Regions from separate parts of the Homo sapiens genome. Here regions 1 and 3 are each linked to region 2. Evidence: fine-mapped expression QTL. A gene starts in region 2. Each other region holds a variant in brackets. All regions are shown on one strand. Distances are between the middles of the regions.

Region 1 (5,748 bases), 230 kb before region 2:
CATCCCTTTTGACATACAGATTCCCAGTGAAGTAGGCTGTGGTCAATGAACCTCTAAAATGTGGGGTTCATGGAAGGGATCTCTGTGGCAGAGTCTAAGGATGGTACTGCTAACTACAGTTCCTACTGGAGTCAGTAGACTCCTCCTAGTCCATTTTCTGTTGCTTATAACATAATACATGAAATTGGGTAATTTGTAAAGAAAATAAAGAATTTCTTATGGCTTAAAGGCTGAGAAGTTCCAGGTTGAGGGGCTGCATCTGGTGAGGACCTTTTTACTGGTGGTGACTCTGCAGAGTCCAGGGGCAACACAGGTATCACATGGTGTGGGGGCTGAGAGTTCTAGCTCAAATTTCTCTTCCTTGTCTTATAAAGCCACCAGTCCCACTCCCATGATAACTTATTAATTCATTAACCCATTAATCCAGTAACCTAGTAACCCATGAATAGATTAATTCATTTATGAAGGCAGAGCTCTCATGACCCAATCACCTCTTAAAGGCCCCACCTCTCTCAATACTGTCACATTGAGGATTAAGTTTCAACATGAGTTTTGGATGGAATAAACAATCAACCTGTAGCAGACTCTATACAATTATTTTTATTTTTGTGAATTGCAACTAAACTACAAAAAATATTTTCAAACAGAACAAAAGTCATTTTTTATAATTTCTTACATATTTTACAAATATTTCAGAAAACATTCTATCAGTAAAATATATATATATATGGAAACACATTCATTAACATATTTGTACATTCTTCAGAATATTATGTTGGTCCACTATATTAATGACATCACGGCTTGACATGGGAGTACCAATCAAAAATGGACTGTGGCTTCACTATGCTATGGCCCCCTCCCCAGGTGAACGACAACAGCAAAAGTAAATCTTCCCAATGTACATAGCCTTGATCATGTAACCTAGTCATCCACTTTGTAGAAAGAAAAATAGCCTGCAGGATAAACATATGGCTCAAAGGTAGTGCTTAATGGCTTGGCTACTGGATAGGTGCCTGAAAGAAAAAGAGTAGAATATCAAGGCAAGGATGAATGATGCGTGAGGATGGCCTTAAACAGGTGGACATGAAGTATAAAGATCTCATATCATCCCCCCAAAATGCATCTACCATTGAAGGGGCATTAAACAACCCAGTAAACAGAGTGACCAGGGCTAGTTCACATCACTCTCCCTGTGCCATTGAAATTCCAATGCTGGCACAATGGGAGTACCATGGAGAAGCCATGGTGGCAGGAATGCAGGCCATGCATTACAGTTTAACTTCTGCCTCTCCCTAATCCCACTCCTCTCTCTCTCTCTGTAGTGTTGAGGGCATTCCTCAAAGCATTTTCTGCAAGCAAATCTCCATCTCAGAGACTGTTTCTATGGTAATCTAGATCAACGTATCACTCTTCTGTTCTCTTCCTTCTTCTCTACCTTTTTCCCTCCCTCTCTTCTTTCCTTTCTTTCTTTCTTCTTGTGTGTGGAACACCATCTCCAGACTATGAGGAGTGGAAACCTACTGAAAAATGCCTGTGTCCAGTAAGTTTATGACATTAACTGCCCAGTGATGTCACACTGTGTAGAAAAACTTACATTCTTTCAGAGCAGAGATGGGCAAATTTTTATTTGTTAAGAGACAGATATTAATATTTTAGGTTTTGTGAGCCATATAGTCTCTATTGCAATTACTCAATTCTTCCACTTTAGTGCAAAAGTGGTCATAGACAACATGTAAACAAATGAACTTGATTGAGTTACAATACAAGCTTATTTATAAAAATAGATGGCAGGCCAGACTTGGCCCATTAACACAGACTTGTTTAAAAGCATTCAAGAAAGAGTAGGAGTGTTCACAGTGCCTTGTGGAGGTCAGTTGAGAGAGTGGGTTCAACATTTATGATACAAGTCCTAGAATCTTCTGTGTATAGCATGAGACAAAACTTTATTGGTTTCCTCATGTCTCTCTAGAATTCACAGCCATTAAACAGAGACATTTCCCCATTTTCTTCACTTTCTACTGTCACTGCCCTGACTCAAGGCTGCTACATCCCACCAGCCAGCATCTCCTCCCAGTTGTAGGAAAGTCACCGCCTTTTTAACAGAGCTAAGGCTGTGACCTAGAGTAGTCTCATTTCCACCATGGTGCAGCACAGAAACTGCCACGCCATTGTTTCACAACATTGTAATTGCAAATAGAAAGAACAGTGTAAGAAAACAGAAGATCGGGTCTTGTTAAACAGTCCATGTATTGCTTTACTAATTTTTAATTATTTGAATAGCCAATACATTCCTATAGATCCAAGTCCAGAAGATATAATCAGCTCCATGATAAAACGTTTCTTCCGCCATCCTTTCCCATTTCTGAGGAGTTCCCATCCCCACACCTCATTAGGTAAACACTGTTCTTAGTTTCTGAGGTGTCCTTCCAGTGTTCCTTTATTTTGACTGGGTTTTAATTAACCTGACTATTGTTACTTTGTGCTCACTACTTCTAAGGTAATGACATTTTCATTCTTCTCATTCCTGTGGCTGCATTTAAAATTTACAATTTGAAAGTGCTCTTTCATGTAATGGCACTCGGGGTTCTCATATGAAATGAGAACTAAATAAACACCTGGATATCCAAAACATGTCTGTCAGAGGTAAAATTTTAGGTATTTATATTCATAGGCCATATCTACATGAAGCAGGATC[A/T]TTTGATTTCCTATGATTAGAAAACAAATTTACTTAGCTCTGCAAATGTGGAAGGCCTAGTTGAGAAAACCCAGAGTTAGAATAATTAAGAGTATGGACAGCTGTACAGCAGTGGATTCAAGAGACAGGTTTATACATGGGGGTAAGATGAATCAAGGCAAACAATAGAAAAGAAGACAGCCTGAGGTGACTGAGTGAGAATATAAGAGATGATTTTCTCCTCAAGCACTGAGCTCAGGTCTACGCATTAGTCAGGAAAGCAGGAGCATTATCATCTCTTTAAAGAGGCCTTCAAAAGGAAAGAAAATTATGTTGGTGACTGGTTTCTCTATGTGGGACTAGCCCAAGTTCTACAGACTTAGGGTGGGGTAACACCAAGCATAGTAATGTTTTTGCTTGTATTTTTTAAAGTCAGTTGATTTATTTATTGCATGGAATAAATCCAAACTAAATAACTAATAGTTGATAGATTTTATTCGTTTCTTATGAGTTTTAAAGTGGTCTTCAAATTTCTATTTAAATATCTGAAAAACAAAATACTCTGCTTCTCAGAAAAATTATTTTAAAAAGGATGGAAGGCAATAAAAATGATAATCTTCAAGAAAGTCTGTGAGATAATAAGACACTTTTTCTGGCACTCAGCTCAAGATCTTAATGTTGATGAGGATTTGCCTTAGTGAGGTGGTGGTTGAGGTAATGGGTCCAATAAGAAAATCCCTGCACTCATTCAGACAGGCATTGGCCAAGACCAAAAAAGAAAAATGTATATATCATATTTTTTTTCAAGGAAAGGGAATGCAATTTGATGATGAACTAATTTAAGGTGGTCAAGTTTGTTTTTTGTTATTTATAAGTACAAATGAATTGGTTAAGGAGATATCTAAAAATGCCTCCTTTCCCTGATAGATTTGCTGAGAGTGTGTTGGGGGATACCTTAGCAGCCAATCAATAAGAAAAAACACATCTATAATAAATTGCTAGATGATGCAAATGGTATTATGCTACATATTATTATTATAAACATGTATAGACTTTAATATGAGATTTTTTAAATTCTAATTTCTCTTCCATGTTATATATATTTCTATTTTAAAAAAATAACAGTCATTTCTTTTTAAAATTTTAAAATTGTTTTTAAAATTTAAAAATATAAAAATTTTTATATTTTTAAAAATATAAAAGAAAAGTCATTTCTAAATGATCCAAGAATACCATATGAATTTAATTTCATTCATGTTACCTGGATCAACTTGATTTATTTTCCTGTTCTCAGAAATACCAGTTGATTGTCACTTGTAGAGTACACACAATTTAGAAAATCATCTTAAGAGTTTTTTAGTTAGTTTATATTTGACAATTCAGAAAAAAATACGATTTTATATGGCATCTCAAAGCCCTTAATGTGATTGCACAAATCTGATAACACAAAAATTTCACACTATGTTCTATTACCAAGAATGTTGATTTAATCTTCTGAACCTGATTAATAGTTCTTTTCTGTCATCTGGAAGGTACTGTGTATTCGGAGACTAGATAATAAATCAAGCCTTCTTTAATTTCTGTTCTTGATGACACAAAATTGGATGTGGAGGGAATTTCCACAGTTTTTAAATATGTTGGGAAAAAAATCCTGACTCAACTTTTTTCTTATCACTTCATCTCACATACCTCTACTCTCTTCCTGAAGATAAACTGTTGGGGCCATAATGAATTATTGTAAATGCCTCCCTAGCACTGAATTTTACTGAAACATATTTTCTTCTCAACTAAAACTAAGGCAGTCTGGGCCCTCTTGTTTCCTTCCCAGCTGTTTGCTCATCATCTGTTACCTTTTCTTTCTCTAATGTGGTTACATTGGATGCTATAGATACTTAACCATGCTAATAAAACTGTCTCCTAAAAATATTAAGATATTTTAAATTGTATAATAAACTAATTAATTTCCAACTAAATGTAATGATATAAATGGCACTTCAAACAGGCACAAGGGTACATTGTCAACATAATATAACATTTTGTTCCAAATATTTCTATAGTTTATTAATGTTACACCAACATTAATAAAATTATGTAGCCAGTCATATGACACATCTTTCTTAATTGAGGAATATGCCTTCTAAAGAAAGTTATGAGCTGAGTTCAAAATATAAGAAAAAAGTTATTCTATGAGGTGAGGAGGACTAAAAGCAAAATATATCAATAACTATATTAAAATATATTTGAAGTCAGACTCTTTATTATATGGGTATTCACTTAAGTCTAGAAAGCATCCTCTAATTACACCAATTTATAAATAAGTTATCTATTGACTCTCCCTCCAGTTTGTTGTACTAAATTAACATTGGTCTGATGTTTTTGAAATTCTCTTGGCAAGATTCAAGATTTGCTCTCTATGGTTAAAATGCTAATAAAAATACTTAGCACACTACTATTTCTAGTTGTTTTCTTTTCCCAGTATACTAGAATCTGGATATATTATAGAAATTAGATACTACCTAAATGCAATGCCTCACACCTGTAATCCCAGCACTTTGGGGAGGCCGAGGCGGGGAGATCACCTGAGGTCAGGAGTTCGAGACCACCCTGGCCACAACATGGTGAAACCCGGTTTCTACTAAAAATACAAAAATTACCCAGACGCGGTGGTGCATGCCTGTAGTCCCAGCTACTAGGGAGGCTGAGGCTGGAGAAACACTTGAACCCTGGAGGCAGAGGTTGCAGTGAGCAGAGATCGTGCCACTGCACTCCAGACTGGGCGACAGAGCAAAACTTTGTCTCAAAAAAAAAAAAAAAAAAAAAAGATACTATAACCTCTAGCTCAGTATAGTAACCTCAGCTTCAAATATTCTAAGACTACAAATACTATTACTTATTTACTAATGTGGAAACAATTAAGTTTCTTAAAGAAGAATCCTTGTGATGATGGTAGTCACAGAATATAACCCACCTTTCAGGCTGATGAGTTGCCAATTAATGTATAATTAGCTTAAAATGTCCTTTATATTTTAGTGACTCCCATAGGGAAACTCTCATTCTCTTTCACATACTAT
Region 2 (5,748 bases):
GACGGCAGGGTCCTGTTGAGCCCCAGGATCCTGTCTAGGTGGAAGGCAAACACCTCACTCATGTCCAAGGGCTGCTTGAGAAGCCCACAGGGGCTAGGGCCACAGCGGAGCACAGCGCCAGGTGCGCCCCCCTCCAGCACCAGCAAACGGGCTCCGCTCCTAGAGGACACAGGCCGGAGCCCTGCCACTGCGCTGTCCGCCAAGAGTCGCATTCTTCGGATGTCATCTTTGCTCAGCCAGGAGGGGGCGCTCTCGCTGTAGATCCTAATGTTGCTCTCCCTGGAGCTGGGCTGCAGGAAGTCTGGGCCCCCGGCTCGCACTCCCGGACCCCGCACCAACCTCCAGGGTCGCTCTCCAATCTTAACCAGGTTTGCTCCCTGAGCGTACCCAGGTGCTACAGCATCAGCTTCCCTTGCCGCTTCCTGCGGCTGAAGGGATGGTCCGACCAAAGCCTCCTGCCCTGGGGCAGCCGATGCCACTGCATGCTTTTTCCTGCGCTTGGGCTTCACGGTGCCACGGATATTGGCCGGCTTGCTGCGCTTGGAGCGTAGGGTAATGTACACCACATTGGGCTGCAGAGTGGACCCATTGCCCTGGGACTCTGGAGGGGCCAGGGTACCATCCAGGGGTATCTCAGGGAAGGATGGCTCGGCGGTGTCGCGGCTGCGATGTGGCCCCTTCTCAGCCGCCTGTCCATGCTGGAGAGAGGCCCTCCCCACCTGGCTCACCAGGAAGCCCAAGTAGATGGCACACGCAGTGCCCAGCAGAAGGTTTCTCCGGGTCCTTGGACGCCGGCTGCTCCAGAGCTTACGCACCCGCGGGACGCACAGGGAGCAGATGAACCAGTTTATGAGCTGCCCCGGCTTGTCTGGACAGGTCATTTCTCTGCCGCATCCACATGTTGAACGGAGTTTAAAGTCTGCAGTTGGCTCCTGCTAATGTGATGCATGGTTTCCTGACTTCAGCTGCCGCGTCCGCTTCGGGATATAAGTGGTCTCCAGTGGGCAGAGGTGGAAGGAAAGGGTTGGTGATGAAGCTGGGAATGTTTCTGACACAACAAACCTTTTAAATTATCAGTCTCCCCAAGGAGAAATGCGGCTTGTTTCTGGGAATGAATGGATACAGAGTTAACTGAGTCACAATTTCAAACCATTTAAGTTCCTCTACAAGAGTCAAGAAAAAAAGTAATCATTTCCTTTCATAAATATCACCACTAAATGTTTTTAAAAATAAAATTTAAAAGCATGCAAACGAGATAGATGTATAGATTTGATAGTCACTTGAAAGTAGTGAAAACAAGCCACAAAAATCCAAGAGTGTTTTATAACTTGTACCTAGAGTCATTTAAGTTGACTCTGAAGCAAAAGCGTTAAAATGTGACAAACCTGGGCTTTTCCTTTTTGAAATTCAGAAAGAACTTAAGACAAGTAATAGATAATTTTTTAATACTCTATACCTATACCATTTTTATTTTTTAAAGTCCTGAATTAACTAAGTACAAGCAGCAAGTATTAACAATAAAATTTAGAAACATATTCTCTTAGTCTAAAGGTACAAATTGTACTTCATATTAATAATATGTTCCATTAGCTTACATTGTTAGTATAATACAAAGCCATAAATGTCCATATATCTTGGAAGCAGTTGCATTTATTCTGTTTCTCTCTCTCTCTCTCTTTCTCTCTCTCTCACACACATACACACACACAACACAACACAACTCTGACTGCTTTTTATTTCTTTTCTTTCCACCGAAGTCAGCTGAAAGAAAATAAAAGCATCTCTAGTTCTGTTTTTTCACTATTAAAAAGAAAAAGAAGAAACTCGTAAGCAACCTTACTTACACAGCTGGCCCCATGCTTGGCTCCAGGAAGAATGTAATCCTTGACTCTAATGCAAAGAACTTTTAAAGGCTGAGGCATGTAAGTAGAACATATTTCATGGTCAAGAGTGTTCCACATTTCAAACATTTCAGTTCAGCTTTAAAAGCTCCCTTGAAAACTACTGATTGCAAAGCAAAACTTGGAAACTGACTGCTGCATGGTTTTAAGAGATACAAAGCTTTTAAAAACAATAGTTAACAAAATAAACTTTAATTTTAAATTCGGAAAAAAGAAATGCCGTAGAGAATCAGTTTTCATTCAAATAAATTTCCACTTATTTTTAACCCCTGGGAGCCCTCTAGTGTCCTGTTCGCAAACAGACTCAGAAATGTCAGTCTCATGAAGTTCAAAAGATCGAGAATGTTTGCTATCTTGGTGGAGCAGCCGCAGCCAAGCAAGTAACTTGTAAAATGAGGAATGCCATCACCCCTCGAGTGTCCATCCCACATAACTTGGGGTTAGAGCACAAGCGTTCCCAGGAACTACTCACCTTACCATCTTGGCCGTTTCATTTGTCTTCCACCAGTTCTGGAAAGAGAAGGCCTAGAAGTTCAGAAAAAAAGGTAAGAAAGAGTTAATATAAATGAGGAGAAAAAATAGAACAGTGAGATAAGAGTACACACAGATAAGGAAAGACATTTATAGTGTGCAATTGCACGGTGCAACAGTTCACAAAAGGAAGTCGTGGATTCTCTCTGATTGGAGGTTTTTTGAAAAAACAGGTTAGGGATTGGCCTGGGTGGTTTGCGTGTCCTAGCACAAAGGCAGGGGCTGATGACCTTGGGGTGTCAATTAGACTATGGCAAATAGAATCAAAAGGCAAGAAGACAGAAAGGGGACAGGGATTTTTCCTCCCCACAGAGAAAGAAAGTTGTGATACTGAAGAGTGGGTAAAAGATTAGCATATGGTGTATAATCCTAAAAATACTATATTTTACAATGCAAAAAGAGCAAGGAGTTGGAATATATAGGGAAGGAGAGAATAAACGTCCAAGTGGTAAATTGACAAAAATTATAATCGGGCTGTTATTTCAGCACTCTAAACTCAGTCCTTTTTTCCTCTTTAAAAGTCCTGCCACATGGAGGAATGAGAAGGAGCAATCCCAATATTGACAGTAGCCTGGAAGTACCTGGATATTTTGGCTAAACTTTGTGAGAATTCAGGCATCAAAACAATTTTATCTGCACTCAAAAACTCTTAGGCACACACTTCCATACACACAGAATTATTTTCTTGATAGAAAATGTGAACTTCTTGCAAGGAAACCATACCAAAGCTGCATTTTATAACCATCTTATTATTTCCACAGTCAAAGGAATAACTGACCTGGCTCTATAACAATTAAAAGTAAGCCTTTGGCAGAGGCCAGTTATAATAAGCAGACATCTCCTCTAGCTGTTTTTAGAGCTATTTTTTTCATGGAGAAATGCCTACGAGATAGGGAGAGTTGTGTGAGTTAGTAAATTTCGTTGACTACCTTCCCACCCCCACTCCAAAAATGTCTCCTAGAAAAAGAACAATACACTGTCCCCTGCTATAGCCACAATAGGGATTCGTGGAGGCTACACTATCTACTCTGAACTATGATATTCAGAGAATGGGCTGAAGAGGGAGGCAGACTGGCTTTAAATTCTCCTCATTTACCTCTTACGTGTGGTCCCCTGTGGCAAGTAATCTTACCTCTCTAAGCCTCAGTTTCCCCCATGTGTAAGAAAAGAAAAATAATAGCACTTACCCTATCGGTTTCTTCTGATGACTGAATGAGATAGCAGCCTTGGAATGATCATTTGAAATATTCAGCAATGTGTTTGTTTTTATCCCCCATGATGCCTCATTAAACTGCTCAGAGGCCTCTCTCCTCAGCCCAGGCCTTGACAGATAGTCACCACTGCACCACAGCAAAGCAATCATGGTAGAATTGAGGACAAGCACACTGAATTATTTGTAGCCAACATATTGATATAGCCAATACAGTGGATAAATGGGGCTTGTCAGATATAATCAGAGCACAATTTTAGTGATTCCCCCCACTGCCCATTGAAACCTGTTCTGTGGCCTGATATCTCTTTTCAACTTTCTTAAATGGAAACTCAGGCAGTCCCCATGACTTTTCCAGTCATACTTAAATTTTTGTAAAAGTTCTCCAGTTGTTAGCCATAGACATACAGACACATAATACACATAAACTAATTAATATGTTTGATTCTATATCACAGTCAATTTCTTTAAAAATTTCTTTTAAATTCCCAGAATTTCTCCAGAAGATAGCAGTCCCTCAAAAAGCATAGCCAAAATCTACTGAAAAGGGACAGAGGAGACCCATCTTACATTCTTTTTTGTTCCTGCCTAGAGCTCTTATTCCTTAACCACTCACCCAGCCGCTCACCCCACTTTGAGCCTGGCTCTGGCTGTTCCAAGGTAGTGGAGAGAGAGAAGCAATAATAGCAGAAATGGCCTTGCTACTCCATTGATACTGCTGCAAATTGACTTATAAGCTCTCCAGGTTTGGCAGGTGTGTAAAGCTGACTCTGAGATAGTTAATTCAAAGACACCACTATCAAAGCATCTCTCTAGCTGGCTGTTGATGGCCCCTTAGTCCCTTGGAACTTGGTAGCCCCCTGTTCTGTTGAGATCACCTCATCTCTCCAGGCTGTTCTCTTAGGCAGCATTTAAGCTGACCTGCAGGCTGGTTTTCTAACTTGGGCCTCTGTGTACTGCCCCACAAGTGATCCAGTGGACATGGTCACCATCATTTGCTCCAGCAACCTCAGACTTCCCAATGCAGCAACCCACCTCCCTTAGCACTGCGGATCCATATCTCATTTTCGAATGTGGAAGCAATTGCCATCAATTGCTCATGGTCTCTGTTGAAACTGAATGGAAAGGTGTTTTTTGCCATCAGGTAGCATGGGAAACAGAGAAGTTTAATTTAGTTTTAGAAAAATAAGGCTAAATTCCTTGAACAAGCGTTAGCTTGAAAATTTGTTGCCACAATATAACATTCGTGTATAACTTACAATATAATCTGTGAGTGAACATATAGAACTCAAAGTATTCATTATTATTAATATTATTAGATCAGAGAGACAAATAATTCTCATGCCTAAAGTACTTTCTCTTCTTAAAAAACAATGAGAGAAATAAAGTGAAAAAGTAGACAGTAAGATAATGGTAGGGACCATCGGAATTACCTGAGGACTTTTTATATCTTTATGGAGGGGCAAGGATGGTGATGGAGAAAAAACATGAGCAAAGCAGGATTGTGGGAATGTTCTGTTTCTTCATTTAGATGGGATTTACCTAAGTATGTTTATTTTGGGATAACACATTGACTATACATTTGTGATTTCTGTACTTTTCCATATTTATATATATCTTATCCTTCAATCAAATTGGAAAAGGTGGTACATAAATAGCTATTTATTTTATATTCTTTATACCTTGTATATATGTTATAAATCTACATAGGAGAGTAGAACAAATAATTTGTTTACAATAAAAAACGCATATTACTTCAGTCATTTAAAAATTAAGTTTAAATATTAAAGAACAGTAAAATCCCTGAAAATTTTAAAAATATATGAGTGTCTAGACCCCATCCATCTTCCCAGAGATTCTAAATGATCTAAAGTAGGGCCCAGGAATCCACAGTTTTAAAAGCTTCTAATGTGCAGAGTTATAATTCACTGTACTATGAGTTAAATACTTAGTTCTAGGAGCAAGTTAACACCTTTTTACAATTAAATGATGTCTTAGGTTTCACTGGCAATGAAGTAATCCGTAAATCCTTCAAGGCTTCCAATAGTAAGATCCTAGTTTGGTAAAGGCTATTTGCCTTCAGTCTGGGACAACTCCTGGACCAGA
Region 3 (5,748 bases), 98 kb before region 2:
TTGAAAGGATCTTTGTCTATTTGAAATTCTGGACTGAATAAATGTCAGATCAGGAATGGTCACTTCGGAGACAGGCCGTGACAGCTGTTCAATGCTGTCACATAACTGCATAAGAGGAAGCAGAGGAATTTGCAAAGAGTTAGTGAGATAGATAAAGCAAAAATTGAAAGCACATCAGTAACCAAACGAAAGAAACAAAAACTAAAAGAACAAAACTGGACACTGAATTTTAAGGGGAAAAAAATTATACAGTTTTCACACACACAAAAAAAAAATGGGGCTAGATGCAGTAGTGTGGGTCTGTAATCCCAGCTACTTGGGAGGCTGAGGCAGGAGGATTGCTTGAGTCCAGCCCCAGCAACATAGTGAAACCCTGTCTCTAAAAAAAAAAAAAAAAGGAAGGTAAAAAACTATAAACAAACAAAACCCTTTTGAAAAAAAATGGGTCATGAAGAGATTTATTTCATTCAAAGTTTGCTTCCTCAAAGACTACAAATCATTCGCAAACACTTAACTCATGGATAGTTTCCATAGTGACACAGAAAACCCAAAATGGAAACAGTTTTTATAGGTTCTTAACCCATATAACAGACAAAACTGTCTAGAACAGTGGTTACAATTCAGACTATAGATGACTACAAGCAATTCTATAAGAAAAGTGATTGATAAGGAAATGATAACTCAGGGTGTGGTGGCTCAGGCCTGTAATCCCAGCACTTTGGAAGGCTGAGGAGGTGGATTGCTTGAGCCCAGGATTCAAGACCAGTCTGGGCAACATGGCAAAACCCTGTCTTTACAAAAAAAAAAAAAAAAAAATACAAAATCCAGCCAGGCGTGGTGGTGCACGCCTGTATTCCCAGCTACTCAGGAGGCTGAGGCAGAAGGATCACTTAAGCCTGAGAAGTTGAGGCTGCAGTGAGCTGTGATTGCACCACTGCACTCCAGCCTGGGTGACAAAGTGAGACCCTGTCGAAGAAAGAAAGAAAGAAGGAAAGAAAGAAAGAAAGAGAGAGAGAGAGAGAGAGAAAGAAAGAAAGAAAGAAAGAAAGAAAGAAAGAAAGAAAGAAAGAAAGAAAGAAAGAAAGAAAGAAAATAAGAAAAGAAAGAAAGAGGAGGGGAGGGGAGGGGAGGGGAGGGAAGGGAAGGGAAGGGAAGGGAGGAAGGGGAGAAAGAGAGAAAGAAAGAGAGAAAGAAAGAGAAGGAAGGCAGGAAGCCTGGCTCACAATATTCTAAAGCAGTAGACCACACATAGTCACATATTGAAGCAATCATGAATTGCTATACAAAGTAATACTTCTATATTTCTTAAAGTGTAGACTGTATTGAGGAAAATTGTTGATTCCACCCTCTTCCCCTAACAGGTTTAATATGACCCGCTGTGGTTGAAAAACATCAACATAAGCTGTTGCTACGCTATTTATGTACACATCTCTAAAAAACAGTTTATGAAAATAAATGTATATGTAAACTTTTTTATTTACATGTTTGTCTATACACACAAGGAATAAAAAGTATTATTACAGGGCAATGATGAAATGCTATTTGTCTCTAGTTGCTCTTAACCCTTATTAAATAATCACTACTGCTCTTTATACTTCCCTTCTCTTTCATTTAGCGGAGAGAAAATTGCTGGGCTATTTTGTGCCACCAACATAGCCCTTCCGAACTGAGAGACTTGCTATAATTATGCTGCCTCATCTTTAGATTTCTCCAGCCTGTGTCTCCTTTCTATACTGGAAAGCAAAGGCAGAACTCCAAGATTGGATTCTTTGAGTTGACCCACTGCACAGTTCTCCCTACTTTCCATCCCACCTCTAACACCCCTGCGTGAGTTAAGAAGACTACAATTCTGATATTTCCTTACAGGAGTCCCAGTTACACCATCTATGAGCAGATAGGATTTTGTAGATTATTTCACTCTTTCATTAGCCACTGAAAATGAAAAACTCCAAGGGTTAGAATTATGAAATAGCCTACATTTTCCCTGTTATTATTCTAAAGCGTCCAATGTAATCAGGAATCTCCTTATTATGAATTATTTTTATTAATTAAGGGGACAGTGAGTTTAATCCTATTGTTACTTATTACATGCTAAATGTTAGGTTTCTTAATGTAAAAGCTGATCAATCATATGTGACACTTTAATAGAGTTTGTTGAAAGCAGAGACGTTCTGATCATCTGTTTAGCAATACACTTCTTCATCCAAAAGGTATTTACTAGGTTGATTTTTTAAATCCAGAAACCATTACACTGCCTACTGCCCTCACTGACAAAGAAAGTCAATGGCAGCAAAAGAAGTGGATCTCCATGGCATTATGAACGCATTATTAGAATAACTATAAAAAGAGAAGTCAACAAAAGAACTCATGGAAGGCAGAGGATGAAAAACAAAACTACTGAAGATGAGAAGAAAGGTTCTATCTGTAAAAAAGTAGTTGAAAAATTATAAAAACTTTGATATGGGAAATAATTCAATTCAGATATTTTATTAATATTTAATAAGTATAAACTTTTTTACATTTTTTAGATTTTTCCTGCACATACTTACATGCATTTAATCCTCACAGCCCATACAGAGTGACATATGCATAAACCCATGAAGCTTATCACCACCATCAAAATACTGTATGTTTCCATCACTCATAAATGTGTAATTTCTTTCATACTCCCCTATTCAGGTAAACACGAATTTCTTTTATGTTACTATGGACTAGCATGCACTCTCTAGAGTTATATGTAAATGGAATTATAAAGTATGTATTTATTTTCTGTCTGGTTTCTTCCCCTAATCCTAATTATCTTAAAATTCATCCATTTTGGTCTTTGTATTAATAGTTCATTACATTTTGTCGCTCAGTCGTGTTACGTTGTAAGAATATACCACCACTTGTTTACCCATTCACATGTTGATAGACATGTGGATTGTTTCCAGTTTCTGGTTATTACAAATCAAGCTGCTATGAACATTTGTGTACAAGTCTTTGAGTAATTTTCTTGGGTAGAAACCTAGGAACTACACGGCTGGATCATCTGGTAGTTGCATGTCACTTTCAAAGATGCTGTCAAACTGTTTTCCAAAGTAGCAGTATCATTTCACAATCCCACCATCAGTATGCCGGTATTCAGTTCCTCCACATTCTTGCCCATACTCTTTGTATGGTCAGTTTTTAAATTTTAGCCATTTTTGCATGGTCTGTAGTGACTTCTCATTGTGGTTTTAATTTGCATTTGCTTAATAATTAATAAGTGAACATCTTTTTAGGTG[A/T]TTTTTTGCCATTTGTAAATCTTCAAGTCTTTTGCCTACTTTTTATTGGGTTGGTCCTTTATTATCATTCTTACTATTATTGAGTTTTGAGAGTTCTTTACATATCCCAGATACATGTCCTTGTATCTTCTTGTATTATTCTTTCACGGATTGTGCTTTTGCTGGTATGTTCTATCTAGGATTTCTTTGCCTAACATTAGATACAAGATTATCCTCTCTATTTACATCTAGAATTATTATCATGTTAGATTTGTCACTTAGGTCTGTGATTCATTTTGAATTAACTTCTTTATATAATTGAATACAGTATGAACCAAAATATATGGGGTTTTGTGTATTTGTTTTTGCATATGGATATACACTTGTGCCAACATCAGTTGTAAAGGCTATCTTTTCTCCATGGAATTTTTTCATTTTTTCACCTTCCTCAAAAATTGATTGTCCACATATGTGTGGGTTTATTTCTGGACACTATTCTTTTCCATTGATCTGTTTGTCTATCTTTATGGCTGTGTGAAATTCTTTGATTTCTGTAGCTTTATAAATGGTTTTGAAACTAGGTATTATAGCATTAGTCTTCCAAATTTGTTCCCTTTTTTCAGTTGTTTTGGCTATTCTAAGTCTTTTGTATTCCTATATGAGTTTTAGAATCAGCTTCTCAGTTTCTACAAAAAAAAAAATCTTACTGGAATTTTGATTAGGATTCCATTTAATCTATTTATGAATTTAAGGAGAATTGACATTTTACCAATATTGAATGTTCTGACACATAAATAAGGTAGCGGGGTATATACTGCCATTTATTTAGGTCTTCTTTAATTTTTCTCAATACTTTGTAGTTTTCAGTAAATGAATCTTTCATGTCCTTTGTATTTTACTTTTTGAGGCTACTGTGAATGGCACTTTTTTATCAATTTATGATTATTTATTGCTAGTATAGAAATACAATAAATTATTGTTGACTACTGACCTTACTTTCTGCAACCTTGCTAAATTTATTAGTTATAGTCTTTTTTTTTTTTGTAGATTCCATTGGACTTCCTACACAGATAATAATAGCATCTGCTAATAAAGACAGTTTTATTTCTTTTCCAATTTGAATGTCTTTTTTTTTTTCTTGCTAATGCACTGGCCACAATTTTCCATACAGTATTGGATAGAATTGGTAGGAACAAACATTCTTTTTTTATTCTTGATCTTAGGAGAAAATAGTTTATCAGTGTAGGAAGTTCTCTTCTATTCCTAGTTTACTGATAGTTTTTACCAGGAATGGATGATGAATACTGTTAAGTTCATGTATTTATTTAGATGATTATATGGCTTTTTTGGTAGTTTTTAGTTTTTAATACAGTGATTACATTGACTGATTTTCAGGTATTAAGCAAATCCTGCATTCCTGCAATATACACCACTTCATTATTTTGTATTATTCTCTTTATATATTGTTAGATTCAATTTGCTAACACTTTGTTTAGAAATGTTGTGTCTATGTTAATAAAGGGTATGTTCTGTAATTTTCTTTCATTGGAATGCCTTTTTCTTGTATTTTTTTTCTTTCCTGTATTTGTATTAGAGTAATGATGACCTCAGTGAAAGGGTTAGGATATATTCGCTGCTTTTCAATTACATGGAAGAGTTTGTGTAAGTTTATATTTTTCTTAAGTATTAATGGAATTTATTATTGAAGCCATTTGGGCCTACAGTTTGCTTTGTTGGAAAAAAATTGCTATAAATTCTAATACTTTGATGGATATAGGGCTATTTAGTTTGTCTTCTTGAGTGAGCGTTAGTAGTTTGTGTCTGTCAAATAATCCATTCATTTCATCAAAGTTCTAAAATTTGTACGTATAAAGTTTTTCATAATATCTCCTTTCTATCCTTTTAATAGCTATTGGATACTCAGTGAAGTCAACCATTTCATTCCTGAGATTTCTGACTTCTCTGTTTTTTGCCTAATTAGTATGGCTAAAGTTTCATCAATTTTATTAGACTTCTCAGAAAACCAACTTTTATTGATTTTCTCCATTTTATTGTCTTTATTTCATTGATACCCACTTTGGTCTTTATTATTTCTTTTCTTACTTTGGGCTTAATTTGTTCTTCTTTTTCTAATGTCTTTTTTTGTGTGTGAGGCGGCGTCTGGCTCTGTCTCCCGGGCTGGAGTGCACTGGCGCGATCTCGGCTCACTGCAAGCTCCGCCTCCCGGGTTCACGCCATTCTCCTGCCTCAGCCTCCCGAGTAGCTGGGACTACAGGCGCCCGCCACCACGCCCGGTTAATTTTTTGTATTTTTAGTAGAGACGGATGTCACCATGTTAGCCAGGATGGTCTCGATTTCCTGACCTCGTGATCCGCCTGTTTCGGCCTCCCAAAGTGCTGGGATTACAGGCGTAAGCCACCACGCCCAGCCTCTAATATCTTAATATAGAAGCTGAGGTCATCAATTTGAGACCTTTCTTATTTTCTACAGGTGTTTACTGCCA

The links. PIP is the estimated chance that this variant, and not a neighbour inherited with it, causes the effect. A credible set is the group of variants that fine-mapping cannot tell apart.
Region 1: its variant is the best candidate, but not a certain one, in a credible set for the expression of GASK1B in whole blood (INTERVAL, PIP 0.68).
Region 3: its variant is the best candidate, but not a certain one, in a credible set for the expression of GASK1B in whole blood (INTERVAL, PIP 0.79).

The regions. Positions count from the first base shown.
Region 1 is chr4:157,944,219-157,949,966 of GRCh38, forward strand. The region is part of intron 2 of LOC105377509 (a long non-coding RNA gene); the gene reads right to left. Among named protein-coding and RNA genes, the nearest start is that of GASK1B-AS1, 220 kb to the right of the region's middle. The variant A/T (reference allele first, on the strand shown) is at 2,699.
Region 2 is chr4:158,170,495-158,176,242 of GRCh38, forward strand. GASK1B (golgi associated kinase 1B) reads right to left here and starts at 2,531. Exons shown (of 5, transcript NM_001128424.2): 1 at 2,374-2,531; 2 at 1-1,105. The coding sequence starts at 881. It overlaps GASK1B-AS1 (GASK1B antisense RNA 1), which reads left to right and starts at 258. Exons shown (of 5, transcript NR_147410.1): 1 at 258-986. LOC101928007 (a long non-coding RNA gene) reads right to left here. Exons shown (of 4, transcript XR_007058350.1): 3 at 3,620-3,772; 4 at 3,194-3,314. RefSeq lists enhancers at 14-534, 708-1,907.
Region 3 is chr4:158,072,049-158,077,796 of GRCh38, forward strand. No RefSeq gene overlaps it. Among named protein-coding and RNA genes, the nearest start is that of GASK1B-AS1, 96 kb to the right of the region's middle. The variant A/T (reference allele first, on the strand shown) is at 3,267.